7 linked regions of the Homo sapiens genome follow. The protein of the gene in region 4 interacts with the protein of the main gene of each other region in a pairwise test. Each region holds a gene or a part of one and is shown on either strand. Other genes may lie near its edges.

The links.
Region 1: the proteins of TGFBR2 (region 4) and GPM6A interact in binary tests that used the Homo sapiens proteins (3 or more experiments, as listed by UniProt).
Region 2: the proteins of TGFBR2 (region 4) and SUV39H1 interact in binary tests that used the Homo sapiens proteins (3 or more experiments, as listed by UniProt).
Region 3: the proteins of TGFBR2 (region 4) and ISY1-RAB43 interact in binary tests that used the Homo sapiens proteins (3 or more experiments, as listed by UniProt).
Region 5: the proteins of TGFBR2 (region 4) and PCSK7 interact in binary tests that used the Homo sapiens proteins (3 or more experiments, as listed by UniProt).
Region 6: the proteins of TGFBR2 (region 4) and MED12 interact in binary tests that used the Homo sapiens proteins (3 or more experiments, as listed by UniProt).
Region 7: the proteins of TGFBR2 (region 4) and SP6 interact in binary tests that used the Homo sapiens proteins (3 or more experiments, as listed by UniProt).

The regions. Positions count from the first base shown.
Region 1 is NC_000004.12:175,697,206-175,701,110, reverse strand, and holds part of GPM6A (neuronal membrane glycoprotein M6-a), read left to right. Parts: intron 1-3,905. UniProt on the Homo sapiens protein: Involved in neuronal differentiation, including differentiation and migration of neuronal stem cells. Plays a role in neuronal plasticity and is involved in neurite and filopodia outgrowth, filopodia motility and probably synapse formation.
Region 2 is NC_000023.11:48,703,198-48,707,102, reverse strand, and holds part of SUV39H1 (histone-lysine N-methyltransferase SUV39H1), read right to left. Parts: intron 839-3,905; coding exon 692-838; intron 606-691; coding exon 476-605; intron 1-475. UniProt on the Homo sapiens protein: Histone methyltransferase that specifically trimethylates 'Lys-9' of histone H3 using monomethylated H3 'Lys-9' as substrate. Also weakly methylates histone H1 (in vitro).
Region 3 is NC_000003.12:129,154,383-129,158,287, forward strand, and holds part of ISY1-RAB43 (ISY1-RAB43 protein), read right to left. Parts: intron 2,539-3,905; coding exon 2,473-2,538; intron 2,294-2,472; coding exon 2,251-2,293; intron 1-2,250. Other genes in the region: pre-mRNA-splicing factor ISY1 homolog, read right to left, coding at 2,251-2,293, 2,473-2,538. UniProt on the Homo sapiens protein: Component of the spliceosome C complex required for the selective processing of microRNAs during embryonic stem cell differentiation. Required for the biogenesis of all miRNAs from the pri-miR-17-92 primary transcript except miR-92a.
Region 4 is NC_000003.12:30,644,409-30,648,313, forward strand, and holds part of TGFBR2 (TGF-beta receptor type-2 isoform B precursor), read left to right. Parts: intron 1-338; coding exon 339-507; intron 508-3,905. UniProt on the Homo sapiens protein: Transmembrane serine/threonine kinase forming with the TGF-beta type I serine/threonine kinase receptor, TGFBR1, the non-promiscuous receptor for the TGF-beta cytokines TGFB1, TGFB2 and TGFB3.
Region 5 is NC_000011.10:117,218,465-117,222,369, reverse strand, and holds part of PCSK7 (proprotein convertase subtilisin/kexin type 7 preproprotein), read left to right. Parts: intron 1-2,611; coding exon 2,612-2,779; intron 2,780-3,205; coding exon 3,206-3,313; intron 3,314-3,801; coding exon 3,802-3,904; intron 3,905-3,905. UniProt on the Homo sapiens protein: Serine endoprotease that processes various proproteins by cleavage at paired basic amino acids, recognizing the RXXX[KR]R consensus motif. Likely functions in the constitutive secretory pathway.
Region 6 is NC_000023.11:71,128,596-71,132,500, reverse strand, and holds part of MED12 (mediator of RNA polymerase II transcription subunit 12), read right to left. Parts: intron 3,904-3,905; coding exon 3,783-3,903; intron 3,388-3,782; coding exon 3,286-3,387; intron 3,186-3,285; coding exon 3,072-3,185; intron 2,822-3,071; coding exon 2,646-2,821; intron 2,467-2,645; coding exon 2,287-2,466; intron 952-2,286; coding exon 880-951; intron 429-879; coding exon 295-428; intron 125-294; coding exon 1-124. UniProt on the Homo sapiens protein: Component of the Mediator complex, a coactivator involved in the regulated transcription of nearly all RNA polymerase II-dependent genes.
Region 7 is NC_000017.11:47,847,959-47,852,298, reverse strand, and holds the start of SP6 (transcription factor Sp6), read left to right. Parts: upstream 1-1,135; 5' UTR 1,136-1,380; intron 1,381-3,812; 5' UTR 3,813-3,869; coding exon 3,870-4,340. UniProt on the Homo sapiens protein: Promotes cell proliferation. Plays a role in tooth germ growth. Plays a role in the control of enamel mineralization. Binds the AMBN promoter.

The sequences.
Region 1 (3,905 bases), on a different chromosome or scaffold from region 4:
GTAAATATTGTGCAAAGTTCTTATTGTCTTCTGTAAAAGAGTAAATCATAAGAAATCAAGCAACCTTTTTTTTCAAACACCAATTATACTTTTCTCTCATAAAATGTAAAACTCCTAAGATCACTATGATTATGTTAAAATAACTTTTTTAGAAAAGTAACTTAAACAGTCTGAAAATTAAAGTTTGCTGTTGAAATTTCAGCTCCTTATTGCATAATATAGAGAACAAAGGTTTGGGATTGAATTCTAGAAACGTTTATTGCTAAATAAGTTACTAATTCAGATAATTTATTCAGTGATTTTTATGCCCATGAAAAGAAAATAATTTATTAGTTTGTTTGTAATCCCAGCTGATAATAAACTTGTCTCCTGAGCCCTTATAGCTTTTGTTATATTTATAACTTCTTGTGTTTATTTCATGCTGTTTGATACCTGTGTTTGTAATCTTCTTCATGTTCCTTTATTTTGTCATTCTAAATAAACTCAAACATTCTTAATGTATATACATTTTTAACTAATATGATGCTTTTAGATTTACAAATCTGAGTGAGTATCTGGATGGTTAGTGTAGCTTTGCTTTTTAATCTTATCATTCCATCTAAGAGAGGTTGATCACAATTCTCATTTATGCAGGGCAATTCCTGTTGAACTGGTATAATTTTAACCTAAGATCCTACTCTGAAAAAACACTTGGTCAACCCAGACAACTTTTTAGGTAGAAGACAACTTTTCTCCAACTACAATATCAGGAATATATCATATTGCTAAATTTCTTATACTCCATCAGGTTTAGGCAGATTATCTTGAACAAGGTATTTTTCAAAGTAATTTTCATAAATTGTTTTTCATAAAAGTATATTTCAAAGTATTTTTTATAAATATCATAATTTTTTTTTATTTATTAAAGTTACTAATTTCCCCTGAAAATGAAAAGAGAATAGAGTTGTGGGCCGGGTGTGGTGGCTCATGCCTGTAATCCCAGCACTTTGGGAGGCTGAGGTAGGCAGATCACTTGAGGCCAGGAGTTCGAGACCAGCCTAAGCAACATGGTGAAATCCCGTCTCTACTAAAAATGCAAAAATTACCTGGGCATGGTGGCACAAGCCTGTAATCCCAGCTACTAGGGAGACTGAGGTATGAGAATCGCTTGAGCCCAGAAGGCAGCTCCAGCCTTCGCAACAGAGTGAAACTCTCTCTCAAAAAATAAAAATTTAAAAAAATGAGAATAGAGTTATACATTTCTATCAGGTAACAGAGCAAGAATGCTCTGTTTTGGGGGGTGGGTGGACAACATATACCCCTGGACAGAGTACATAGCAAAATTTTTAGTAAAAGCAAAGCTGAAATATTTGTTTATTTAAAACCTGTTGATACTTAAAACCTAGAGAAAGACTGATAAGAAAATAAGAAATAAAATGAGGAAAATGAGATTGAGAAAACCCAGTCCCCTCCACCCCCCACACATACATGGGGATTAGAAGAATGGAACTGATTAGCTACTAAATTAAGAAGTGAAATTATTATAAAAATATAGTCCATAACTCTGTAGTATCAAGTGAGAGCTTCGCTAAGGTCATGACAAATGGGAATGAAGAATTAACAGCAAATTGAAAGTTGCATATTATATTTCCCAATGTAAATTTATTTTACTAATTAGTTCTGAAAAATTGACGTTATCCATTAAATTGAATCCTTTAAGCATTAGTAGACAGTTTATCAGTTTTCATCAAACTAAATACAAACCTATGTATAAAACCAAAATTCAATAGCTATCAATGCCTTAGATTCAAATAGCATGAATCAACCCTTTAAAGATTATAAGTCATATTCATCATTTGGAATATAATTAAAATGCTCTAGATTATTGCAGGTTAGCTTTTAGAGAGTCTTAAGAAAATGATTGCATGGATATATTTTAATGTGATAAAACTGACATTTTCTAGATTTATCTCAGCCTACCCTGGACAAAATATGTTCTCACTGTGCATTATTTTAAACCATCACAGATGTCCTTAACATCTACAGATTCTCTCTATGTAAACTACATCCAAATTGCTAAATTTACTTATAGAATTACAAGTTTGTAAGAAATCATAAGCCTAATGAATGGCAATAGATGCTTATGTACATCTATCAGCAATTATTTGTTAAGATATTTGATATTTAAACAACAAACTTTCATATATTGTAGAGATCTACTAAAGCTCTAAAGGCAGTGTATGTAGGGGTGAGGGGAGTTTAGAAGAAAGATTGGAGATTATATGCTTAATTTGGTAGTTTTACCTTTGCTCTGTTATATTATGTATTAAATGTGAAACCAATAATGCATGTTTGGAATGGGAAGAATACCATTTTGATTGGAATAAAAGTAAATGTCAAAATTATCTCTGTTTTCATATTTCACATTACTAAAATTCCTTATACAGGCCCTGCAGAGCTAACAAAGTATTTGAGACTCTCTCCCTACCAACAAATAGTTCATGAAAACACAGAGGGAAAATATGTACTGTAAACCTCTTAATACGATTAGTGCCAAGTGATAAATTTAAAGATTACATAAAGGTTTCGAGGAGGTAGATATTACGCTATGCAGGGCTGCCTTACGGGGTATCAGAGGAATGGAAAAAGTGCTGAGGAAACAGAAGATGTAAAATAAGCAAACAGAAGGCAGAGGAGGCTGAATGATTCGTTTGCAGGCCATACATCTCCTTGGAAATCAACTAAGGTAGGTTTGGAAAAGAATGTATAAGAGCATAATTGTGGAGAAAAGACTTACCTAATTTTAGTAATTTACAGAGTCTATTTCTTTTCTCCATAGTTCTCATACTTAGTTCAACCAAATTCATCACTCCTACATTATATACTTGGAAAAGAAGCTTGTTTACTGGATGTGTGAACTAAAAGATAAAACCAGTTCCAGTTGCCCAAGCCCTGAATCTTCCATCTGTGGTGCTCAGGATTTGAGGAGTTACCTACTTCTTTATCTCAGGGACCACAAAATTTCTCTCTCCCTCTCTTTTCCTCTCTCCACTATCTCCCTTCTCTTAAATACATACACTTATCTCAACATGATCAATATTTCCAAGTCCAGAGGGAGACATGAAAGGCAACAGCAAACGCAATGACGTGTGACTATTCGGTTTCACTAATCACTTGTCCAGAATGCAAACCATACTGACCATAAATGAGCTTGCAAATAATCCTCATTCTTATGTAATCTGTATTTTAGACATATAATTCTAAATACTATCAGCCCCTGCCAGTGGGAGCTGGCCTGAAGTTGAGCTCCTAAACTCTTAGCTGATATCACCCATTATACTGTTTTGTCCCATTACATTTGAGGTGTGGCAACCTCCAGAGAGAGAGAAGAATGTATTTCTCAAAGAATTTCTCAAAGATTTTGTTACTCATTTATATAACTCATTTATAGTCATTTGTATAACTTTTAGTACTTCTCTGTCTCTTGTCTATTTTCTTCCCCAGAAGCTTTTAATCCCTTAATTTTCAGCTTAGTTTCTCAAAGCCAGGTCATTTGTTAGTTCCAAACTGTTTTGATAAGAAGTGTGCAACTTCTTATCCATTAGGAGTTATTTCTACACTCTAATCACAACTTCTGTTGGTTTAGCATTGCCATTTAGGCCCACTCAGCACTCAAAACAGCTCTGCCGCTTTCTGCTATGTGATGAGGAGGACATTTTTTTCATCAGAAAAATTGTGATTCAGACTTTCTCTTGAGAGACATTTGGAAAGGTGTTATTACTGTGCTTCATAAGTCATTTGACAAACTAAGTAAGAAGTAGGGTAGGTATTTTGCTTCTGTGAAGCAGATTCATTTGGGACAATAAAATATGGAGACTGTTAGAAAATTAGATATCATACAGAAATCCAAACCACTAATTTTGCTA
Region 2 (3,905 bases), on a different chromosome or scaffold from region 4:
AGGAATAGAGGGCCACCTGGGCATCCAGAGGTACATCTGAACTCTCCTGCCAAAGACCTGCCCTTGAGGGTCTCAGAGGTGGCTAGCTTATCAAGGAGGGGACTGGCTGGAGGCCACAAGGGTGTCCAGAGGCTTGGGATGAAGAAGGCCAAAGGGAGCTAGGAGTGGGGAGGGGCTGGGGGATGAGGGAAACTCAGTCAAGACTGGAGTCAGGAGTTTCTTAACTCTCCAGGAATCTTGGGAGAAGTTGGTATGAATGCCTCAGGGTTAGGGTTCAGGGGCTGGGAATGAGGGGACTCGAGGGGTAGGCAGGGGTCTAGTAGTCCGAATGGGGGACTGGGAGTCAGGAAGAGCATCTTAAAGCTCCCGCTAAAGAATTTTCCTTGGTTCTCTGAGTGACTGGTGTGCCTTTGGGAGGGGTCCTTGTGTCCCAAGTCACAGTGCGCCCCTGCCCCCAGTCCCTTGCCACCCCCACCTTGCATGTTGTAATCAAAGGTGAGCTCCTCGCCTGCCCGGATGGTTCTTGTGGCAAAGAAAGCGATGCGGGGCAGCCGCTCGTCAAGGTTGTCTATGAAGACGTTGTACACCTGCAGGTTGGGGTCACACTGGGCGAGAAAGAACAGTTGGGAGAGTGAGGAGGGGCTCCAGCCTGCCCCTCTCGACCCCTTGCCCGCCTGCCGGGGGTACCCACACTGTGGTTGACAAAGTGGGAGATGTTGCCATAGTAGGCGGCATCCACGGTGTACACGTCCTCCACGTAGTCCAGGTCAAAGAGGTAGGTGGCGCCCTGACGGTCGTAGATCTGGCCCCGCCGCTCTGCCTCCTCTGAGGTAATGATCTAGGGAAAGGGCCATGGGTAAGGGGAGATTGGCCGCGAAGTCTCAGGAAAGCCGGCACTGCTCCTGACTTCTGAAGGACAGGGAGCAGGAGGCACCCCTGCCCGTGGACACACATGGGCAGTGACGCAGAGAGTCTGTCGGCCCTTCCTGAGGAGCTGGGCCTCAGCTGGCAACTGCCTGGCCCGCCTCAGGCCTCTGGCTAGCAGGAGGAGTCCCTGGCGGTGAGTGCAGGCTGGCCTGGCTGCAGGGCCCAACTGGGGCCACGCGAGCACCTCCTGCCGCCACCCAGCAAGAGCTGCCCAAGAACCCCTGGAGCCTCCAGTGCCTTGGGACGGAGCAGGAAGGTGATCAGGAGAGACCAAAGCAAGGGCAAGAAAGAAAGTGACCCAGGGTGCCACAGGGAGAGATACTTACTGATCCAGGCAAGGGAGCCTGAGCCCATGCAGGACCCAGCAGGGAGGGCGTGGAGAGAGGGGAAGAAGAGACCCAGGCCATGGGGAAAGGGGGCAAGGGCCTCAAGACAAGAGAGGTGGAGGCAGAGGCAGAGGGAGGCCCAGGTTCAGAGAGCCAGAAAGAGGCTGAGGCCACACACTTCAGAGACAGCAGCAGAGGAGGAGGAAAGATGAAGGGAGAGCACAGTGAGAGAAGCTCTCCCTCGGCCCAGGGCTGCGCAGTGCCAACTGGTGCTTCAGACGGCAGTGGGTGCCTCCTCCCCAGCTGGTTCCCTACCTGTCCTAGGAAATGGGAAGCTTTGCTGCCATCCTAGCCCCAGCCTGTCCTTGCCTCCCAATCCACGCCAACAAATCTCCGGCCCCATGGCCCCTCTTCCCTGAGGCCAGCAACGGCAGCCTCCTGCCAATCCCCAAGCGTAGCTGACCAGGCCCTTCCCTGGGTAGGGGTCCCACTGTACCTCAGCCAAGAACAGTGCACAGCACACAGGAGACACATGGGGACTGCTGTTTACTTTGATTCTGCTTCCTGGCTTAGCAGCCTGTCCTCTGTCCAAGTGGCGGCCCTCCAGGTAGCTCCAGTACTCCCCCGCCACACTTCTTCCTTCCCCTCCCTTCTCCAGAGACCCCTCTCGGGCTTCCTTCCTTGCTCACCCTCATGTGGGCCGGTGACCATGCCCTTCTGACTTGGGAATCCATCTCCTTAGCTAGGATGGCCACACTGGTGTTCTCCCTGGCTGTCCCCTCAAGGCTGTGTTCCATGCCAAAGGCTGACTAACAATGCCTTGAGGAAACCAAGATTTACCCTGCCTCGGGCCACACTACCCACTGCCCCGTGCTCCAGTTCTGTTCCTTGAGGAACCTGGCTCCCTTGCCAGGGTTTTTATTGAGGCCTTCCTTGTGCCCAGTCCCAGCATGCAGGGCTCACGGTCTGATCAGGGAGACACAGGGACCAGGCCCGGTCCACTCTCAGGGGTCACAGGTGGGTAGGGGATACACAGGAACCAGGATTGGTCCCTGCCCTCAAGGGGTCAAAGTCTGGTCACAGAGAGACAGATTCACACACCCACAGTGTAAGACTGTGATCAGGAAACAGTGCTTAGGGCTTGAGGGGGAATGGAGAAGAGACGGATTCTCTAAAACGAGTTGCAGATCATAAAAGGGCTTTACCACCTGGTGGAAGAGTGGGGACTCTCTCCTAAGGGCCACAACATGAGGGTGGAATATGTCAAGATCAGTCTCCCTTCACCTCCTGGAGAACAGTCTTCCTTGTGGCATCAGCTCAAACAGATGGGACCTCTCTAGGCAGCCTTCCAAGCTTCCCGTTCCTCCCCTACCTCAGAAGCTGGCCACTTGTCTGATCAAGTCCTGGGATCAAAGGGCAGCCTCTCCCAGGCTCACAGGCCTAGTGGGTGGGGTATGAGCCATCTTTTTCACCGTAGGCCCTCCTTGAGCCAGGAGGAGTGCCCACATCCTTCCTAGTCTCCATCTTCATGCCTATTCTGCCACTACCTGCTCTCCCAGTCTCACCAGGAGTGAGTCATACTGCAGGCCCTCCAGGGCACAAACACTTCTTGGTTCCTTCTCATCTTCTTTTCAGTCCCATTCTCTAATGATTGGTCAACCCTGAAAGCTTGGGAACAGATGGGCCTGTCTCTGCTCCCTAACAGCTCTCCAGAATGAATGGAAAAGACAGGCTGTAAGCTGGCAGTTCCGAGAGGGTGCTGACGTGAATGGGAACTAGAAGACTTGGAGTCAGCTGCTGCTCTGCCCCCTCCTGGATATGGGATCCTGAATGTTCTCTCTGTGCCTGTTTCCTCAGCTAAAAAAAAAAAAAAAAAGCTACAGCCTGGCAGGGTACCAGTTTTAGATATTATTTGGGCCTTTATTTTTTTATCCATTGTACTACTTTTGTGATTTTAATCAAGTTATTCTACCTCTCTGGGCCTCAGTTTTCTCATCTGCAGAATGGGAATGACAGTGACAAAATCCCAACCTGACAGGGGCTGTTGTAAAGATCCATACAAGATCATGGACGTGAAAGGTGTTCCTGTTTCTGATAGGAGAGTGAGCAATGTTAGGAGTGGTTATGAGGACCAGTTATAAATGTAAGGCACACCCTTAATTTTATGTGCCCTTTACCAAGAAAGGAAAAACTGCTGTTAATTATAAATGATACACCATGATTTAATTAAGACATCTTCATTTCCGAGATGTTAAAATAGGAAGAAAATGCATGTTTTAGAATGGATAAAATAGGCTGGCATTGTCTCTTGGGTGAGGATGGGAATGTTCTGCAGGAACGTGAAAGTTCTGACCCAATGTGGGAGGCTGCAAAGGAGGGAAGGGCAGCTCCCGTGGAGGGAGCTCTTGGTACAGACTGTCAGTACATGTCCCAGCTGAAGAAGGACAGTAGATAGCATGGTGTGCAGATAGGCCCTTGATTCCGTAACACCCTGGCAGCATCTGGGACGGCACTACAGAATCAAGTAAATTAGAACTGCTGCAACGAAATGTATGACTATTACCCCAAGTAGGATAAATAAAAACTACAAATAGGACCCTATCCGGTCAGGCTGGGTCCTGTAGCCAGATGGGTTACAAAAAAACTTGGTCT
Region 3 (3,905 bases), about 99 Mb from region 4:
TGAGCCGAGAACTCGCCACTGCACTCTAGCCTGGGTGACAGAGCAAGACTCCATCTCAAAAAAAAAAAAAAAAAAAAAAAAGGACCACTTCTCTTAAGTGAGCTTTGGCAGTTTGTGTCTTGTAAGGAATTGACCTATTTCATCTAAGTTGTCAAATTTATGGGCATAACATTGTCTGTAATATTTCCTTATTATCCTTTTAATGTATATAGATTCTATAGTAATATTCCCAATTTGGTTCCTAATATTCTTAATTTGTGTATATTTTTTCTTGGTCAGTCTGACTAGAAGTTTATCAATTTTATTGATCTTTTTTTTTTTTTTGAGACAGAGTCTCGCTCTGTCTCCCAGGCTGGAGTGCAGTGGCGCGATCTCAGCTCACTGCAAGCTCCACCTCTTGGGTTCATGCCATTCTCCTGCCTCAGCCTCCCAAGTAGCTGGGATTACAGGCGCCTGCCACCACATCCAGCTAATTTTTTGTATTTTTAGTAAAGACGGGGTTTCACCGTGTTAGCCAGGATGGTCTCGATCTCCTGACCTCGTCATCCGCCCGCCTCGGCCTCCCAAAGTGCTGGGATTACAGGCGTGAGCCACCACGCCCAGCAATTTTATTGATCTTTTCAAAGAACCAGCTGTTGGTCTGTTTTCTCTATTCATCTTGTTTTCAATGCTATTGATTTCTTATCTTTACTATTTCCTTCCTTCTGCTTGCTTTGGGTTTAATTTGCTCTTCTTTTCTAATTTCACAGGGTAGAAGCTTAGATCACTGATTTGAAAACTTTCATAATTTTCTATTATTTCAGTGCTATATATGTATTTTTTGTTTGTTTGTTTGTTTGTTTGTTTTGAGATGGAGTCCTGGAGTGCAGTGGCACGATCTTGGCTCACTACAACCTCCGCCTCCCGGGTTCAAGCGATTCTCCTGCTTCAGCCTCCTGAGTAGCTGGGATTACAGGCACATGACACCACACCCAGCTAATATTTGTATTTTTAGTAGAGACAGGGTTTCACCATGTTGGCCAGGATAGTCTCTTATCTCCTAACCTCGTGATCCACCCGCCTCGGCCTCCCAAAGTGCTGGGATTACAGGTGTGAGCCACCGCACCAGGCCAGTGCTATACATTTTTATCTAAGCACTATATCCCATAAATTTTTTCATCCCCTAAATTTTGACATTACGTTTTCACTCTAATTAAATTCAAAATATCTTCTAATTTCTTTGCTGTTTCCTCTCAGACACATGAATTATTTACAAATATGTTGTTTAATTTCCAAATATTTAGGAATTTTTCAGATATGAATCTGTTGTTATAATCAGAGAAAATACTCTGTGTAATTTCAATTTTTTTTTTTTTTGAGATGGAGTTTCACTCTTGTTGCTGAAGCTGGAATGCAATAGTGTGATCTTGGCTCACTGTAACCTCCGCCCGTTAGGTTCAAGCGATTCTCCTGCCTCAGCCTCCCAAGTAGCTGGGATTACAAGCATGCGCTACCACGTCCAGCCAATTTTGTATTTTCAGTAGAGGTGGGGTTTCTCCATGTTGGTCAGGCTGGTCTCAAACCCCAGACCTTAGGTGATCCTCCCTCCTCGGCCTCCCAAAGTGCTGGGATTACAGGCGTGAGCTACTGCGCCCGGCCTCAAATATTTTAAATTTGCTAACATTTGTTCTGCAGCCCAGAATATGTTTTATTTTGGTGAATGTTCCACGTGCTCTTAAAAAAGACCATGTATTAGGCCGGGCATAGTGGCTCATACCTATAATCCCAGCACTTTGGGAGGCTGAGGCGGGCGAATTGCAAGGTCAGGAGATCAAGACCATCCTGGCTAACATGGTGAAACCCTGTCTCTACTGAAAGTACAAAAAAATTAGCCGGGCGTGGTTGTGGGCACCTGTAGTCCCAGCTATTCGGGAGGCTGAGGCAGGAGAATGGCGTGAACCCAGGAGGCTGAGCTTGCAGTGAGCCGAGATCGCACCACTGCACTCCAGCCTGGGTGACAGAGTGAGACTCTGTCTCAAAAAAAAAAAAAAAAAATGACGTATTCTTTATTGTTAGGTACAGTGTTGTGAGACAGAGTATTCTACAACTTTCAACTACATCAAACTGACTGATCGTATTGATTGGCTCTTCTATGTCCTTACTGATTTACTATCTACTTGCTCTATTGATTATTTTGAAAGGAGTATTGAAGTCCTCAAGTCTAATTGTGGATTTGAGAATCAAGCACTTTAAAGGAACAAGTTTGCTTACCATTCTGAATCTGAGCCACTTTTTTAGAGATCTCTCCAATGATCTATTAAAAAAAAGTAATACATTTTAATAATTTTTGAATATGTTAGAAAGCACAGAAAAACTATAATTCAAAATTAGTATTTAAAAATACTTAGACTTTTGGTCTAACAGTCATTTAGATAATAAGAAGAAATGAGAGACTTGTTACTTCTACTGAAATCAGATTTACCCAGAACATACCTGTCGTCTCCACTTCTCAGCTTTAGGCAGTTCAGTACATTCTGAGGCCAGAAAGGGTCTTCGTTCCTAAGGAGAAAAAAATAACACATTTCCATTATACTATTTACAAGTTTCAAACAACATTCAGAACTGATTCAGGCCTTAAGCCTAAATCATCTAATGGCCTAAAAACATTTGAAGTTTTCATTCCAGATGATCCTCATCAAGCCTTAAACCTCATTCTACAATCTCTCCTTAGGAAAAACATTGATTGCATTGTATTTAATATTGGAAAGAACTTAACTGTCCTGCAATAGAGAGACAGCCAAACTAGGTTATAGCTATTTCATGGCATATTTATAGTACCTTAAGAAACAATGTCTATCAGTGTTTAAAACAAACATACATAAATATGGGTGTATTCATATACATGTGCGTATATAAAATTAAAAAAAAAATCCAAAGAATGGTATATATTATCTCTAATTTGGGTGAGTCTCTAAGAAATGAAATAATTTACCGGTTTCAGCTTACAGCTGTTCTCCACATCATACTCCAGTCCCTATTCAATATTAGAGCTGGAGTAATAAAGGACCCAGTCATCAGGCTGGGCACGGCGGTTCATCTCTGTAATTCCCACTTTGGGAGGTCAAGGCAGGCAGATTGCCTGAGGCCTGGAGTTTGAGACCAGTCTGGCCAACATGGTGAAACCCCATCTCTACTAAAAATACAAAAAAATTAGCTGGGTGTGGTGATATGTGCCTGTAATTCCAGCTACTCAGGAGGCTGAGGCAGGGGAATTGCTTGAACCAGGGAGTTGGAGGTTACAGTGAGCCAAGATCACGCCACTGCACTCCAGCCTGAGCGACAGAGCGTCCATCTCAAAAAAAAAAAAAAAAAAAAAAGGGCCGGGCCCAGTCATCATAATACAGAAGAAACTGAAAAACAAGCAGCCAGATCCATCACCCTGCCTCAGCTATGGGGAGGTATTGGAATTCAAGTGTACAGACTCTCAAGAGCGTCAGCAGGTACAGATAAGAAATAGGAAATTCTGAAGTTTGAAGTCTGTTGACCTGGAGTGCAGCAGCGCGCTCTCGGTGCACTGCAACCTCCGTCTCCAGGGCTCAAGTGATTCTTCTGCCTCAGCCTCAAGTAGCTGGGATTACAGGTGCCTGCCACCATGCCCAGCTAATTTTTGTATTTTTAGTAGAGATGGGGTTTCACCATGTTAGCCAGGCTGGCCTCAAACTCCTGTCCTCAAGTGATCCACCCCCCTCAGCCTCTCAAAGTGCTGGGATTACAGGCGTGAGTCACTGCACCCTACTTTTTTTTTTTTTTTTGACAGGTTCTCACTGTGTCACCCAGGCTGGAGTGCAGTGGCATGATCATGGCTCCCTGCAGTGTAAGACTCCTGCATTCAAGTGATTCTCCTGCCTCAGCCTCCCCAGTAGCTG
Region 4 (3,905 bases):
GGGCCCAGCACTCCGTACTATGCAGTGGGCCCATCTAGGTTTCTTTATTGAATGATAAGATTTTTGTAGAAAGTGGACCTTATGACAACCATTGACAAAAGCAAATGGCTACTCAACCACCCCAACCCCTCACCACCCCTCACCACGGTACAATGGATTTTATTACAAATTGCATACACCAGATAATTCTAATCTGATGTGAAGGAATTATTTTGCCTTTCTTCAGATTCATTCTCATGACATCAAGTTCATTTGAAATTGCATAACATCTTCAGGAATTCATTGGCAGGCTGCCTGGCAGTTGGATAATCATTTAATATATCTTTCTCTCTCCTCAGTTAATAACGACATGATAGTCACTGACAACAACGGTGCAGTCAAGTTTCCACAACTGTGTAAATTTTGTGATGTGAGATTTTCCACCTGTGACAACCAGAAATCCTGCATGAGCAACTGCAGCATCACCTCCATCTGTGAGAAGCCACAGGAAGTCTGTGTGGCTGTATGGTAAGCAAGCCTTTTAAGAAGTTATTCTTTCTTTTCCCCTTTTTACATAATGTATTCTCATAGTACACACAGTCAGTGTATCTCTGTCTCCTAAATGTAAACACCTGTTCCATTTCCCTTTCCTTTAGACCATCTCTCTTTCGATTATTAAATGTAGTTTCTAGGGGTGTTCTCTGCATGTATGTGTACGTTTATGTGGGTATATAAACGTATCATGATTATAAAATGATCATGATAAATGTAAAGATCATAAAATGATCTTTAATATAATAAATCTGGAAACTCTTTCTTGTATCAAGAAGAGGGATTTGCCGCTTAGTAGTCATTTAACCGACACCTCCTCAGCACCCCATAGTGAGACCAGGAGCTTTGTTCTCTTGAGGCAATCTCAGGTCTGGAAGAAGAGGTGATGAAAGGTTGGCTGTTGGAAGAGAAAACTACCAGCCAAAAATGGGGAATCTACTTGGAGAACCACAAAAACAACCTGTTTTTTTAGTCAGAAATTCTGGTTATATTATTCATATAACCATTGGGATAGATATGACTTCTTTCTCTCAGCTCAGAACTACATATTTCTTTTTTTTTTTTGAGATGGAGTCTTGCTCTGTCATTCAGGCTAGAGTGCCATGGCACAATCTTGGCTCACCGCAACCTCCACCTCCCAGGTTCAAGCGTTTCTCTTGTCTCAGCCTTTCGAGTAGCTGGGATTACAGGTGCCCACTACCACACCTGGCTAAGTTTTGTATTTTTAGTAGAGACGGGGTTTCACCATGTTGGCCAGGCTGGTCTCGAACTCCCGACCTCAGGTGATCCACTCGCCTCTGCCTCCCAAAGTGCTGGAATTACAGGCATGAGCCACCATGCCCGACCAGAACTATATATTTTTATCGGATCACATTTTCTCCTCTCTCTCTCTCTCTCTCTCTCATTCCCTCCAACTCATACATACATCTCAAATAATAATTATACATACACAGTGGATACTCATGAATCATTTGATTAATTCATGGTTATAGATTGTGAGCATGAACAAGAAATAACCTTGATCTTTAGAAGAGTTGTAATTTTACAAAAGTACATAAATTCATTAATGAGATATGACATTTTGCAGACTTATTCTGATGTTTTTAATTTATTGGCCATTTTAAAAAAAGTAACTTATGTGTCTCCTGGCTAGTTGACAAACAAGAATATAAACCCAAATATCTCTCCCCCTTTTTTGGGAATGAGTCATTTGAGACCCCTAGACCATGTAAAGCTAGCCTTGATGATAGATCTGGAAACCTTGCAAACTTCTGTACATACCACGGGATGAACTGGTTTCTTAAGAACTGAAGGAATGTTAACAGCAAAGACTTGTCATGACATACTTGCCAATATGATATGATACCTGTCCATGTCCACTTCTAGGTAACGCTTTCAAAGAAAGGATTTGGACAAAGAATGTGTTCAGAGGAGAGGGACCAGTGTGGTTAGAGGCCTAGAAATCATGCTGTCTGAGGAATGGCCTGGGCAATTAGACATGGTTAGTACAGTGAAGAGAGATCGTGGGTTCTGCTGATGAAATTGAAAGGCTCTCAGGTAGAAAATATAATAAACATATTCTGCATAACTCTGAAGGGTAGAGGGAGGATCCATAACATTTGCAAGGCAGGCAGACTTGTGCTCAGCATAAGTTTAGACATTTTCACAATCATGGTTTCCCAACAGCAGAACAGGCTTCCTTTTCTGTAAGCACCAAGTGAAGTTCAGGAGAGGCTGGATGACCATATGTCAAATAGAATGCAGGAAAGATTGAGACACCAGACTAGATGGCCTCAAAGCTTCCTTCCGTGGTTTCTTAAATATCTACGGTGGTGTGAGCACTTGCTTTTGCAACCCAAAAAGGCTCTTTTAATTAAGATTTTTGTTTTCCTGACCAGTAATACAAGCCCAAATCATTAAATGTGAATCAAGTCTCTCTAGAATAGAGGCTTTGCTAGCCTCAAAAAAATGTGAGCATGTCGAAGAGAGGAGGCCTCCCTGTCTTTTCTGTGTCCCAGCTATAAAGGGTAAATACAATGAACATTATTTTGACCTGTGCTGGCCAAAGAAAATTCTCCCGTGAAGCCAGGGGTGTTGATAATGAGAAGGGGAAGTATAGGGTACGCTATAGTGCCCTCCTTGATCCTCCTTCATGACCAAGGCACTCATTCCCTGGGAGTGTTGGCTGTTGAAGGATCACTGCTGAGCCTTCCCTCCAGTGATGGGAGCTGCCTCATTCACGTTGGACACTTTTCATGGGTAGCCATCATCCCATGGCTAGTTGATGCAGAGAAACAAATTCCTGGTTATTTTGCCATAATGTGGTACATCTTTGAAGGACATCCCATTTTCAGAGTTTCCAAGGCATTCACTGAGGCCTTTGCTGCAACCTGCATTATAGTTTAGCTTTTTCCTTCTGTGCAATACTGTTGCCTTTAGTCGCTTACAGATGCATCTCCAAAAACCTCCTGCACAGAACTCTCACAGCCTCAAGGTCTGTTTCCAGGAAACCTAAACTAAGACAGGAGGCTATTGTAAAAATAGCCAGTGTGGAAACTGAAAGGCTCTACTATGATTGTAGATTTCAGTGTTGTTGTTTTTTTAATCAGTTTTAGTGTTTTTTCATTCATTCATTCATTCATTCATTCATTTAACTAATGTCAGTTGTGTGCCCATTCCATATAAAATGCTTAAGCTGCCTCCAAGGATAGAAATATTTTATAACCAAAATTATTATTATTATTATTTTTAAATTGAGAGGGAGTCTCCCACTGTTGCCCAGGCTGGAGTGCAATGGCGTGATCTGGGCTCACTGCAACCTCTGCCTCCCGGGTTCGTGCGATTCTCCTGCTTCAGCTTCCTGAGTAGCTGTGATTACAGGTGCACACCACCATCACGTGGCTAATTTTTTGTATTTTTAGTAGAGATGGGGTTTCACTGTGTTGGCCAGGCTGGTCTCGAACTCCTGACCTTGTGATCCGCCTGCCTCGGCCTCTGAAAGTGCTTAGATTACAGGCATGAGCCACCGTGCCCAGCCTCCAAAATTAATTTTATCATGTTGGTTCTTCTTTCAGTGGAAATTGACAACCTCTTCAGTGGCTCAGAGCAAATGTTGCAGGACAAAAAAAGAAGTCCGTATTTACTTCTTTGTATTTACCTTTCCTATGCTCAGCTATATCCAAAAAGAGTTTGAAAAGTTAGCTGTGCCTGGCTGTTACAGGAGTGAGTGGAGAAAGCAGTTAAGGGCTTTACCAGGTCTCAAGTATTACAGTTGTTTTCTCTCTGTGATGTTAGTTCTCTCAGTAGCTAAGAGGTAGAAAACCGGAGGCTCTGGAAGAGCTGCCCAATAATTATAGAGCAGCTTTCTTTCATGG
Region 5 (3,905 bases), on a different chromosome or scaffold from region 4:
TGGAGCTATAATTGGAGCCATAGCAAATGAAATTCGAGCAGGGTCATGGAGCTTCTCTAACCTGTGGAACCCATTTAAAGAATTTGAAGACGATCGCCTACACCCAGCTGGGCTTAGCGCCATCCCAGCAGGTTTAAGGCAGGCCTCTAGACCATCTTCCTAGAGCTCCCTGCCTGTCCCTGTTGCCCGCAACCATATAGTGTGGGCATAGGAGGCTCTAGGCAGGAGCTGGGCTGGAGCCAGGTGGTATCAAATTTCTCCAGTGGCTGAGTCGGGAGATCTCTCTGGGGCCATTGGGAATTAGGCTGCTTTGTCTTCCTGCTGGGTCAAATTTATTTTCCAAAACTAAAATTTTGTTATGCCAATAAATGACTTCTGGTCAACACAATGTTCCAAGGCTCTGTGCCAGTTGACCCCTACTACCCCCTCCTCCCAGCCCCAGGGAGAAGAGAAAAGGGAGTGGACTAAAGTAGAGAGGGAAGAGAGGCTGGGCTGTGTGCACAGAGGGCACCCACTGCAGGCCAGGCTGGGTTAGGAGGAAGAACAGGAACATACCAAACTCCACCCTCTAGCAGAACTCTAGGGAACCCAGCTCGCCCTGCCCAGGCCAGGGACCTAAGAAGGTTCTACAACATAATTGTCACTCTTGCTCTGCTGTACCTGGCCTTTCTCATTTTAACTCACCTCAGCTTCTCACCCTCACCACCCTCTTCCATCTGAACTGTAATTTGCCCAGAAATGAAGAGAGAGTGTGTTTAGCAGAGTTCCCATCTTTGGAATGTCCTTGCTATGGAAACTTCTTGTTGCCAGTTTCTAGTCAATGACCAGGGCAGCTGGGTAGAGCTGTCTTTCTGAGGGCAGAGGCTGGGGGCATATGCTTCCCACCATTTGGCTCCCTGGGGAAGCAAAGCTTCTCTGGACTTTTCAATGCCTGCCTGTGGCTCCTGCCACCATAGACAAGTTCGTGGGCTTCACAGCCACACTTCAGACTATCACTGCAAGGCTGTTTCCTTAACAGGAAAAAAAATCAACCCGCTCCCTTGCATAAACCAGGCTCCCACTCTCATTGAGACAACCACTTGGAGAGTGCTTTTCCCTTTTTTTTCTGGGAGTGCGCCATGGCTGGGTGAAAATTACATCTCTTGGCAGCTGCTCTAACAGCTGGGAGGGAAGCAGTGAGTACAGTGGAGAAAGGGCAGCTCTTGGCAGAAGTCGCCACCCTGGTATCTGACCCAGAAGAGAAGTTTGGAAGAAAGAAATTCTCCGGTGTTAGCACTGACACCATGGGCCAACGATCCAAGTGCCATAGAGTGGAGCAGATTTAGGCAGGGCCCGCCTCAGCTAAACCCTCTGAGTCTCCAGGGGTGATGACAGCCCCAAAAGAGCTCGATGCCAGGCAGTCACTGCCTCCCCTTGCCCCATTCTCGCTCCCCACCTCAGAACCACACAGAGAGAAGGGGTTTCATGGCATCTGGCCCAGAGCAGTGAGGCAGCTTGTCCTGTTGAGAGCTGTAGAGCCGGGCAGGCGGGCCTTATAGACACTGAGTCCATGCAGGGCTCGGGGGTGGGCAAGGACACAGTCCTCTCTTGCTGGAACACACTCCCTGTGTTCACGCCGACATCATTCCAGCCCCTGTCGCGGAGCTGCCAAATTGGATTTCCTTGAATAGTGCCGTCAGTGTTGTCCCAGCTCCAGCTGGGCCCAGTAGCTCCCCTGGCCACTTCCTCTGTCTAGCTTGGTTGTGGGGGTTGAAGGGTTTGGAGTTGGGAGTTGGGATAGAGAATTTAGGAATGGGAGCAAGAATATTAGGAGCAAAAATCGGGAGGCCCCCCCATGGTGGCTCATGCCTGTTAATCCCGACACTTTGGGAGGCCAAGGCAGGAAGATTGCTTGAGGCCAAGAGTTCGAGACCAGCCTGGGCAACATAGTGAGATGCTGTCTCTACAAAAAATAAGAATATTAGTGTGGTGCAGTGGTACACGCCTGTAGTCCCAGCTACATGGGAAGCTGAAGCAGGAGGATCGCTGGAACCCAGGAGTTCGAGGCTGTGGTGAGCTATGATCTTACCACTGCACTCCAGCCTAGGCGACAAGGAAAAATAAGAAAAAAGAAAAGAGTTGGGAAACCCTTATCTGCACTGGATGGGAGCCCTTTCCTATCTCTGCCTCCTTTTGCCAACAACCACACCCTCAAAAGTAACTTTTATTATCTTTGTCTCTGTTCTCCAGATATTCTGTTAGGAGGCCAGGAGGGTTAGGGTTTCCTTTGCCCTGCCCTGCTATTGGGTCCTTCTCTGGTCAAAGATTCAGCTCTAACAAAGGAAGGGTCCACCTGTGAGACCTGTTCTGAGGACCAGCCCTGTACCTTTCCCCCATAACAACTTTGAACTCAGTCTCTAGCTTCTTTTTTAAAAAATATTCTTTTTTTATTTTTTAAAGATGGGTTCTCACTCAGCCACCTAGGCTGGAGTGCAGTGGCACAGTCATAACTCCTGTGCTCAAGCAATCCTCCTGCCTGGGCCTCCCAGGTAGCCGGGACTATAGGTGCACACCACTGTCCCCAGCTTGAACTCAGTCTCTAACCTACTTCCTTTTCCTGTTTCACTTCCAGGTGACCACTGACTGGGACCTTCAGAAGGGCACTGGCTGCACTGAGGGCCACACAGGGACCTCAGCTGCAGCGCCTCTGGCAGCTGGCATGATAGCCTTAATGCTGCAGGTGCGGCCCTGCCTCACGTGGCGTGACGTCCAGCACATCATTGTCTTCACAGCCACCCGGGTGAGATACCAGCAGGTAGACAAGTGGCCTGGCCCAGCCTGCTCCAGAGTTCGGGTATCAGGTGGCCTTAGATTCTCAATGTCCCAAATGTTAGATACTAAGTCTCTTTCAGAGTCCCTTTCAGAGTTGCATATGTAAAGAACAGGTGTGGGGACCCCACAAAGACCACAGGCCTAAACTCATTTTATCTGCAAAGGGGAGCTCTGGCTGTGCCTCCTGGCCCCTTCTCTAGAAGCAAGCCAGTGGGGTGGTGACATCATGGGCTTTGACCTTTTGTCCCAGCTTGCCTTGGGGAATCCATTCCCAGTAGCCATAGTGGGAGAGCGTGGACTGGATCAGCCAGCAGGGCAAGCAGGGAAACCAGAGTCAGATTGTTGAGACTACACTGGCAATGCAAGAGACTAACCAGGACCTCTGTCCTTTCAGTATGAGGATCGCCGTGCAGAGTGGGTCACCAACGAGGCAGGCTTCAGCCATAGCCACCAGCACGGTTTCGGCCTCCTCAACGCCTGGAGGCTCGTGAATGCAGCCAAGGTGAACAGGTGTTGGCAGGGCAGGGTGCCCTGTGTGGAGTGACCAAGGGTCGGAGCTGAATGCCCCAAACTGCCTGGGATATCATAGGTGCCTAGTAAATGTTCATTCAGTTCATTGATTTAACAACTTCAACCTTCATCCCAGCTGATATCCATTTTACAAATGAGAAAGCAGGCTCAATGCTATCACTGAAGTTTCCAAACTACTAATAGAGTAAATGGGACCTGAGTATGTGTGGGACTCAGGATGCTCTGGTTCCCCTCCTCCACCCTGGACACAGCTGTTTCCTCTGGTTCCTTAGCTGGGGGCTGTACGGAGCATTCCAGCGAGCAAGCAGGAGCTGAGGGCTGAAGGAAGATGATGAGGAGTGGAAAAATAAAGACAGCTAAACCTTCAAGATCGTATTGACAAGGGCGTGTGTGTTTGTGAGAATGTGGGTGTGATCATTCTTGTTTGTTGATTTGCCATCCCCTCCTTTCCTTTCATAGATCTGGACATCTGTCCCTTACTTAGCATCCTACGTCAGTCCCGTGTTAAAAGAAAACAAGGCGATTCCGCAGTCCCCCCGTTCCCTGGAGGTCCTGTGGAATGG
Region 6 (3,905 bases), on a different chromosome or scaffold from region 4:
GGAACCCAGGTGCTGACCCTTCTCCAATTCTTCCCCAGCAGCCTTTAACACATGTCCCTGGACTGAGGTGGGCAGTTTAGCAATGAGGGGGGCCACCAGCCATACACCAGAGCGCTCTAGAGAGCTGGAGAACAGACAGAGGACACAGGGTCACAGGGGAGCCAGGCAAGGCTGGAACAATCTATCCTCTCCTTTCCCTGATGGACATGCTGGCATCTCCACGCATCTGATATCACTCACGCTACCAGCAGATAAACTCCTAAGGGGATGGGTCCTAACATGTTTCTATCCGACCTGAGCACAGGCTTGGTCTTGCTGCTGCTGGGCATGTTGCTTGCAGTACTTCCAGAAGATGACCCTGTCTCTGCTGACTGTTGGAAAACCTCGATTGTGGCCTTGGCGATGTTCTCCAAGAGGGAGTTCATCTCCTGGGGAGGATGAAAGGCACAGAAGTGCTAAAATAGGTAGCTAAGGGTGAAGGAAAGCAGATGGTAGGAGAGATCGGAGATGACGGAGAAGGACAACACTGGCGGAGATTGATGGGGAGATAGGAACGCAACTCTGTTGGGAATCATGCCCTCTAGTACCTCCATATTTCTCCAATTCCTCACTGTCTTCTCCTTTACATACCTCCTTACATCTATGGCCAGAGAAACAGGCTCCACCACCACCACCAAGCTTCCCCACAGCTCAGAGCTCCAACACTCTCAACCCATTTCCCTTATCATCAGCTCCACTTGTTCACCATTTTCCCATCCCCTCTTATCTCTCAGCTCAAGAGCCCAAGGGTAGGATCTAGGTTCTTCTGTGGTGGACCGCCTCCCTGACACATGGAGCTGAACGTGAGCACAGGAAAGGGAGGGTCCAGGCACTACTCACATTGTTAGGGGTCTGCTTGATCATGAGCTGCAGCTCCAAGGAAGACTGGCGCATGGTCCACTGGTCCAAGTTCTGTGATAGAGGCCCCACACCCAGGCTAGTCATCATCGTGTTACCCCCAGCTACCCAACAATCTGAGGCCAATTCCTGATCTCCTGCAACATTGAATCACAGACTCCTGGAGGTCTGAAAGGGACCTCTATGTCCCCATCTTTAAGAAAGACTACATTTAGGGAGGCTGAGACAGGCGGATCACCTGAGGTCAGGAGTTCAAGACCAGCCTGGCCAACATGGCAAAACCCCATCTCTACTAAAAATACAAAAATTAGCTGGGCGTGGTGATGGGCGACCTGTAATCCCAGTTACTCAGGAGGCTGAGGCAGGAGAATTGTTTGAACTTGGGAGGCAGAGGTTGCAGTGAGCCGAGATCGCACCACTGTACTCCAGCCTGAGCGACAAGAGCGAGACTCCGTCTCAAAAAAAAAAAAAAAAAAAAGACTACATTTAAATAGTCCAAACTAGTTGAAAATCTTTCCAATTTTTAAAATAGTTCAGGAAAGATTTCACATCTTTCCCATCCCTTCGTATCAGGAAGTTCTGCTTAATGCTTAACCTTGAAACCCTTGATGTTAAAGTTGAAGCCTGCTTCTCTTGTTTTAGACCAGCTGCTCAAAGTCCCTGACAGAACCTTTATAAGACAATCTCTCAAAGTCCTGTAGAGACCAGAAGGCTACTGTTAGCTAATCTCTCTTCAACACTATCTCTTCTGGGCTGAAGAGACCTTATTCCTTTAGCTTTTCCTCAACGGCTTTATTTTTCCACTCTCTGGTCATCTGAAGGTGTGAAGCAATGTGAAGAGGAAAGTGCACAGACATGTCTGGGTTCACATATTGACTCTAAACTTATGGGCTATGTGACGTTAGACAAGTTACTTAACCTCTTCAAGCCTCAGTTTCCTCATCGGTCAAACAGGGAGGCTCACCTACTTCATAGGGTCATAAAGATTAAATGAGGAAATGTGTGCAGAGTGCCTAGCACAGTACCTGGCACAAAGCACATGCTCAGCAAGTAGTAGCTATTACTATTCAGTTCCTGAGCCATGGCCAAAATGCCAAATATACACGGCCCACACCTAGGCCTCCCAGATGCTATGCTTCCCATTGATAAGCTAGATTCACTCCAGATAGCTATGCCCTCACCTAATACTCTTACACTGGAGTCTAGACCCTACTGGACTTACTCCTCAGCCCATGCTGGAGCTGTTTCTCTCGCTACCTCTCCCCTCCCCTATATCCTTGTTTGTCTTCCTCTCTACTTAACTGCCCCTCTCCTTTTCTCAAGGTTCCTATTGTTTCTCCCCAGATTGGGCCCACTGCTTCCTCCACAGCCCCCACGGCCTTGGCCTACCTGGAGAATGCGCTTTATGCGCTGCCGCTGGGGGTTTTCCCCATCCTCATTGTCCAGCAGTCGATGTGGATAGCAAATGAGCTGCATGAGGCGCTGCGCCTGGGCACTACTCAACACTGGGTCTTGCAGGTCATTGCTGTCCTCACACAGAGACTTAAGGCAACGTTCTCCTACCCATTCCTGAGGAAGCTGACAATCAGGGACTGGGAACAACCAGTGAGGGGGTTAGGAATATGGGGGATGGGCTGGAGTTGTTAAGGAACACAATGTATAGTAGGGAGCTGGTGTGATCATGGGCTGGAAACAGAACTATATTACACAGAGGCATTTAGGAGGTGTGGGAGGAAGGTGAAACTGACCTGTTGGCAGATGCTGCGCAGCACGTACTTGGCATAGACATCCAGACTGGCTGTCTCCACAGAGATGTTGCGGCCACCCTGCCTCCGACCACCACTGCCACCTCCTCCCTCCTCCTCTGGAAGTTCTTCTGTTCCTCCTGTCACAGTGAAGCCTGAACCTTTCAGTTCCGCATCCCCTGTGGTTCACGGGTGGGAGATAGGGAGGGCAGAGTGAGATTGGAACACGTGTGGAGACCCACCCTGGGCCCACAGAGGTAGAAACACCCCAAATCCTGCCCTATGGGACAGAAATATACTTCTCTCCCTCCCCTCCTCCCCAAAGGTCAGAGAGACCACCTTCAGAAGGGAGAAAGACTGTCCCTTGTAGTTTAGCTGGCACTCCACCCTATACACACTTCTGGCACCACTCCCTTCCTACCCCCGTACCAAGTACAAACACAGCCTTGAGAACAGCAAACACGGCTCCATCCACGATGCGGTTCTGGGAGGCAGCCAGCAGGTGGCGGTCGCAGGAGGAGCGGATTCCTACTGTAGGCTTGTCTGGGGAAGGCGATGAAGTCAGGGGAAGCAAAAGTAGAATCCACGGAGGCAGGGGAACCACACTTTCTACTGTTGGCTGGTTCAGATCAGGGTCACTTACTTCCATCAGACTGGCAAGGATTGAGCTGCGGTGTCTTGAAAAGGTGAAGGAGGATGCGGCAGGTAAGCCGGGCCCCTGGCTCAGAGTCCTGTTCACTACAAGCTAAAAGGAAGACAAAACAGATCTGGAAGGGATGAAGTTAAACTGTATGTGGGTTTATGTGTGTGCGTGCCTGCATGCATGCAAGTGTATGGCAGGGGCATGGGAGAGAAGATGAGGTAAAGTGAAAGGAGAAAAAGCAAGATAATATTGAAAGCGAGGTAGAGCAGAGAACTGTTACGCAGTTGAAGGGTCAGAAATTGGAAAGGTCAGGGCTGCAAATCCAGGGCTAAAAAACAGGTTTCTTCTAGCCTTCAGCATACCAAAGGACTGGCCTTCTGAGGAAGGCCAGGGAGCCGCAGCAAGGTCTCCCACAGTGAACAATGAGAGGATGGCCGTCCAGTGTGTATTGAAATTTGAGGTCTAGAAATGCTAGGGGTTACAGATTGGTAGTTCACCAGCATTAAGGAGTGAAGGGATGGCAGCACAGCGAATCAGATCTTCCAGGAGCAAACACTGCCGAGCGATGAGGATGGCAACAAAAGTAGCCAGCGAGTCATGAAAAGATAGGTCACTGACCT
Region 7 (4,340 bases), on a different chromosome or scaffold from region 4:
AAATGTCGACCCATCCAGATCTTGAGGGAAGTTTTTGTGAGCTCCGCGAGCGCGCTGAAATTTTACCAGAATATTGCACTGGGCATGTGAATTTTTCTCAAAGGAATCCAAGACCCCTCCCCAAAGTTAAGAACCTTGGGTTTAGTTATTCTGGTGAGAATTAGAAAGGAATGGTGGCAAGGGATAGCTCAATTCCTTCCAGAAGTGTCCCTTCCCAGGGCCATTCAGGCGCCTGCCCATTCTTCAGAACCGGGTGCTCGGGGGCGAGGGTGTGCGTAGGCTGAGCATTTCCCGAAGGACAGGAGGGCGAGGAGAGGCGAATTTGAGAGGTGGATTTCTTAGGCACTGGGGTTGCTACCTAAGGGGAGGGGCAGAGTGACAGCTGCTGGGACCTGGGACCAGAGTAGGGGGGAAGCAGAGACCGGTGGTGGGCAGAGGCTGGGAGAGGGGAGGAGAGGAGGTGGTCACCCAGAAAGGTCAGAGAGGGATACCCCGGAAGGGAGAGGGAAAAAAGGACGGGGAAGGGTGGTGGTGGAGAGAAGCGGCGCGGGGTGCGGGGGGTGAGGCAGGGCAGGGGACGGGGGTCGGGGGTCGGGGGAATGGCGAAGGAGGGCAGCCAAGACAAATTTCACACGGCCTAGGCCTAGAGGCGAACTGGAAACATACTTGGCGCTCAATCTTGTTTCCTTCTTTCCTCCCAGTTCCGGGGCAGGGCTGTCCGTTCAGAGAGGGTCAAGGGCCATCGAGGCAACCTAAGGGTTGCTGCCTAAGGGTGGCTCTGTCTCACCCCCAGGACCTGCCCCCTTATCCATTCCCCCTGGGTCTTAGTCCTGCGTCCTCTGCTAGACCGAGCTAGCTCCAGGGCAGTTTTCCACCCGGCGGGGCGGGTCTTAGAACCTGGGAATCACCCCACCCGGGCCCCTCTCCCTGGGAGTGGAGGGGACCAGGGAGGAGCGAGGGAGCGGGCGGCGCACGCCCTAGTTATCTTTCCTCCCCCACTCCCGCCCACCCCCTCCTCGCGGCCCTGGCTGGGCTCCGGTCCAGCCGAGCCCTCAAGGGTTAAAGGCGGCCGCAGGTGAGGTGGGCGGGGCCGCGAGTCCGGGGGAAAAAGCAGCGCTGGGGAGAGGATGAAGGCAGAGAGCGCGGGTGAGTCACGGGCGGAGCTGGCCTTGTTCGCTCGCTGGCTCCTGCCCGCCCTCCGTCCTCCGCCCTCTCGCCAGCGCTCACCTCCGCCGCCTGCCGCCTGCCGCCAGCCGCCGGGTCTGGCTCGCCCTGGGCTCCTGCCCCTTACCGCTGGAGAGCTCGCCGGCGCACAGGGCCTATGAGCGACCGTCAGTAGCGCACCAGCCAGCCGTGCCCGGAGCCCGCCGCAGCCTCGAGGTAGGAGCGCGGGTCGGGGTGGCCAGGGGTGAGCGCTACGGAGATTGTCTCGAAAAAACGCACTCCGAACGCGCCCCAGCCTCCTATGGCCTTGGGAGCGGGGTGGTCCTAAAGGATCTGAGAGGTTAGAACCCCGATGGAGGGAAAACTGGGCGGACGGGAGAGACTGGAGGGACCGAGGAGGCTGGAAACCGGGGCAACTGGAGCGACTGGGACAACCAGAGGACCGGGACATTGAGAACTGGGAGTACTAGCCGGTGATCCAGAGAGGCAGAGCCGAATGGGGCATAAGGGTGCACCGACTTGCCTTCCCACTTCGGGGAGCGAGAAGCCTGCGATGTACGCTGTGCTCTCTCCTTTCCTGAACTCTTTCTAGGCCTGGAAGTGAACCGGACACATACTTGGCACTCAATCCTGTTCCCTTCTTTCCTCTCAGCTCTGGGGCAGGTGGGTCAAGGACCATAGAGGCAACCTAAGGGTTGCCACCTAAGGGTGGCTCCATATCACCCCCAAGACCTGCCCCCTCCTCTATTCTCCTGGGTCTTAGTCTTGCATCTTCTGCTAGACTGAGCCAGCTCCAGGGCAGTTTTCCACCCAGTGGGACTGGTCTTAGAACCTGAGAATCACCCCGCTTTGGGTTTCTGAAATCTTGGTAGCAGGCCATTGCATCCCAGGCCTGGGCTCTCCAGCTCTCTGCCAGGAGAAGCCACTCTGGAGCCCAGATTATCCTAGCCTTCCCATCCTCCAGCCCCTGGGGCAGTTCCCAGGCACCAAAAGCTGTTAGGGTCCCTGGCTTCACAGCTCCCGCTCAGCCCCTTCTGTGCTGCCCCACCCCGGCCTGGGGCTCCTTTCCTGCAACTTCACCCTGTTTTCCTCTTGTGGTGAGGCAGCCGGAGCCTGAGTAGGTGCCCCCGTCCTCCTCTCCCTCCCTCTCCCAGGCTATCAGTGCCACCTCCCTGGTCCCAGAGGCAGGAGATGGTAGGGTCAGCTAAGCCCTGCTGTAGGAAGGAAACAATCCTGCCCTAAGTCACTGGTCTCCTCCCCCACCAGTAGAGAAGACCCAGGCACACAAACCTGCCCAGCTGAGGCACCAGGGCTTCCAGGCCTTAGGGAGAGGTGGTGAGAAAAGAGTGAACTTCAAGCCACAGATATGTGGTTGAGAAAGCGTTGGGGGTCTTTAGCGTTCTAAGGGTCTACAGAAAGATTGGTTTACAGAAAGTAACAGACTGAGAGTCCAGGAGTTAGGAGACCTGGTTTATTGAATGAATAAATGAACATCCTTGTCCAAGTCACTGTGCCAAGTCATTCAGTCTGCTTCCTTCTCTTCAAAATAAGAAGATTGGCCTGGAGCAGTGGTTCTCAACATTTGCTGCATATAAGAATCTTCTGGTGGTGGTGGGGAGCTTCTGAAAAATGATCCATGCCTAGGATGCACTTGCTTATGTCATCTTTTTGGGCAATTCTTGCTCTTAGGTTCTGTGGTTATGACTTCTCTTGTTGCCCTCCTCTTCCTGCACTCTGACCTTGTATCACTTAAAGGGGTGCAATTGTATCTTCCAGAGCTTGCTGTCAAGCTCTTCTCTGGGGAAGCCATTCCCTCCCAACTTTCTATCTGGGCCTCCCCTAGCATGGAGAGGAAGATGGGTAGCAGTCAGAGAGTTGCCTGGCACTGGTATGAGTCAAGAGAGGGATGGAAATTTGGTTTTCTCTGGTGGGGGTATCTCCCAGATTCCAGGGGTATCTGGTGGCCAGAAAGCTGCTCCCCAGGGAGGTGAAGTCCCTGCTTGAGGGAAGGGGGTGGGGGCATGTGAGTCGGTTTAGTGGGCCCGATGTGACCAGGCCAGGCGGGGAGCAGCGTAGACGGTGAAATGCTTTTCATTACTGAACATGCTTTGGGAATGGCATGAGAACTCTTTCAAAGACTCAGGACCCGTTTGAGGCTTTATGAGGGGCAGGTCACCTGAAGCTTTGGGTTTCAGAAATAGACCATCCCCTCTCCCATCTGTATCCTGAGTTAAACTGGGGAAGCTGAGATGTGTCTAGATCCTCCATTTGGGCTGACAGCAGGTCTGCAGGGGGAAAATGCCACTGCCCCTTGTGTTGGCCTGGGCAGCTGGGGTGGGGATGGTTCTAGCACTGTGCTGTAGGTGTATCTGACCTACCATCCTGGGAGTGGCCCAACTCTAGGGATGAGCTGGGTCATACGGCAGGGATCACCCAGAGGAAGGTAGACCTCCATCATCCTCTGTGCTTGGATGAGAACCTCACATCTTGGACCCTTCCTCGCACTCCCGAATTCTCTAAACTCATCTCTAGTCCTCGTTCAGAGGTGCATCCTTCTTTTACACCTGGGGCCAGAGAGGAGGACCTGGGTTAGGAGGGAAAGTGAGCTGGTTATTTCCCTTACTTTTCTGCTTCTTCGCCTCCTTTAGGTCCCGTCTGAGGTGCCCCTGACCGTCCCTGCCCTCACCCCACCCCGGATCCCGGCAATGCTAACCGCTGTCTGCGGCTCTCTGGGCAGCCAGCACACGGAAGCGCCGCACGCCTCCCCGCCGCGCCTCGACCTGCAGCCTCTCCAAACTTACCAGGGCCACACGAGCCCTGAGGCCGGGGACTACCCCTCCCCGCTGCAGCCTGGAGAGCTGCAGAGCCTCCCGCTGGGCCCGGAGGTGGACTTCTCGCAGGGCTATGAGCTGCCAGGGGCCTCCTCGCGGGTAACCTGCGAGGACCTGGAAAGCGACAGTCCCTTGGCCCCGGGCCCCTTTTCCAAGCTCCTGCAGCCGGACATGTCACACCATTATGAATCGTGGTTCAGGCCGACTCACCCAGGCGCGGAGGATGGCTCGTGGTGGGACCTTCATCCGGGCACCAGCTGGATGGACCTCCCCCACACTCAGGGCGCGCTGACCTCACCTGGCCACCCGGGGGCGCTTCAGGCGGGCTTGGGGGGCTACGTCGGA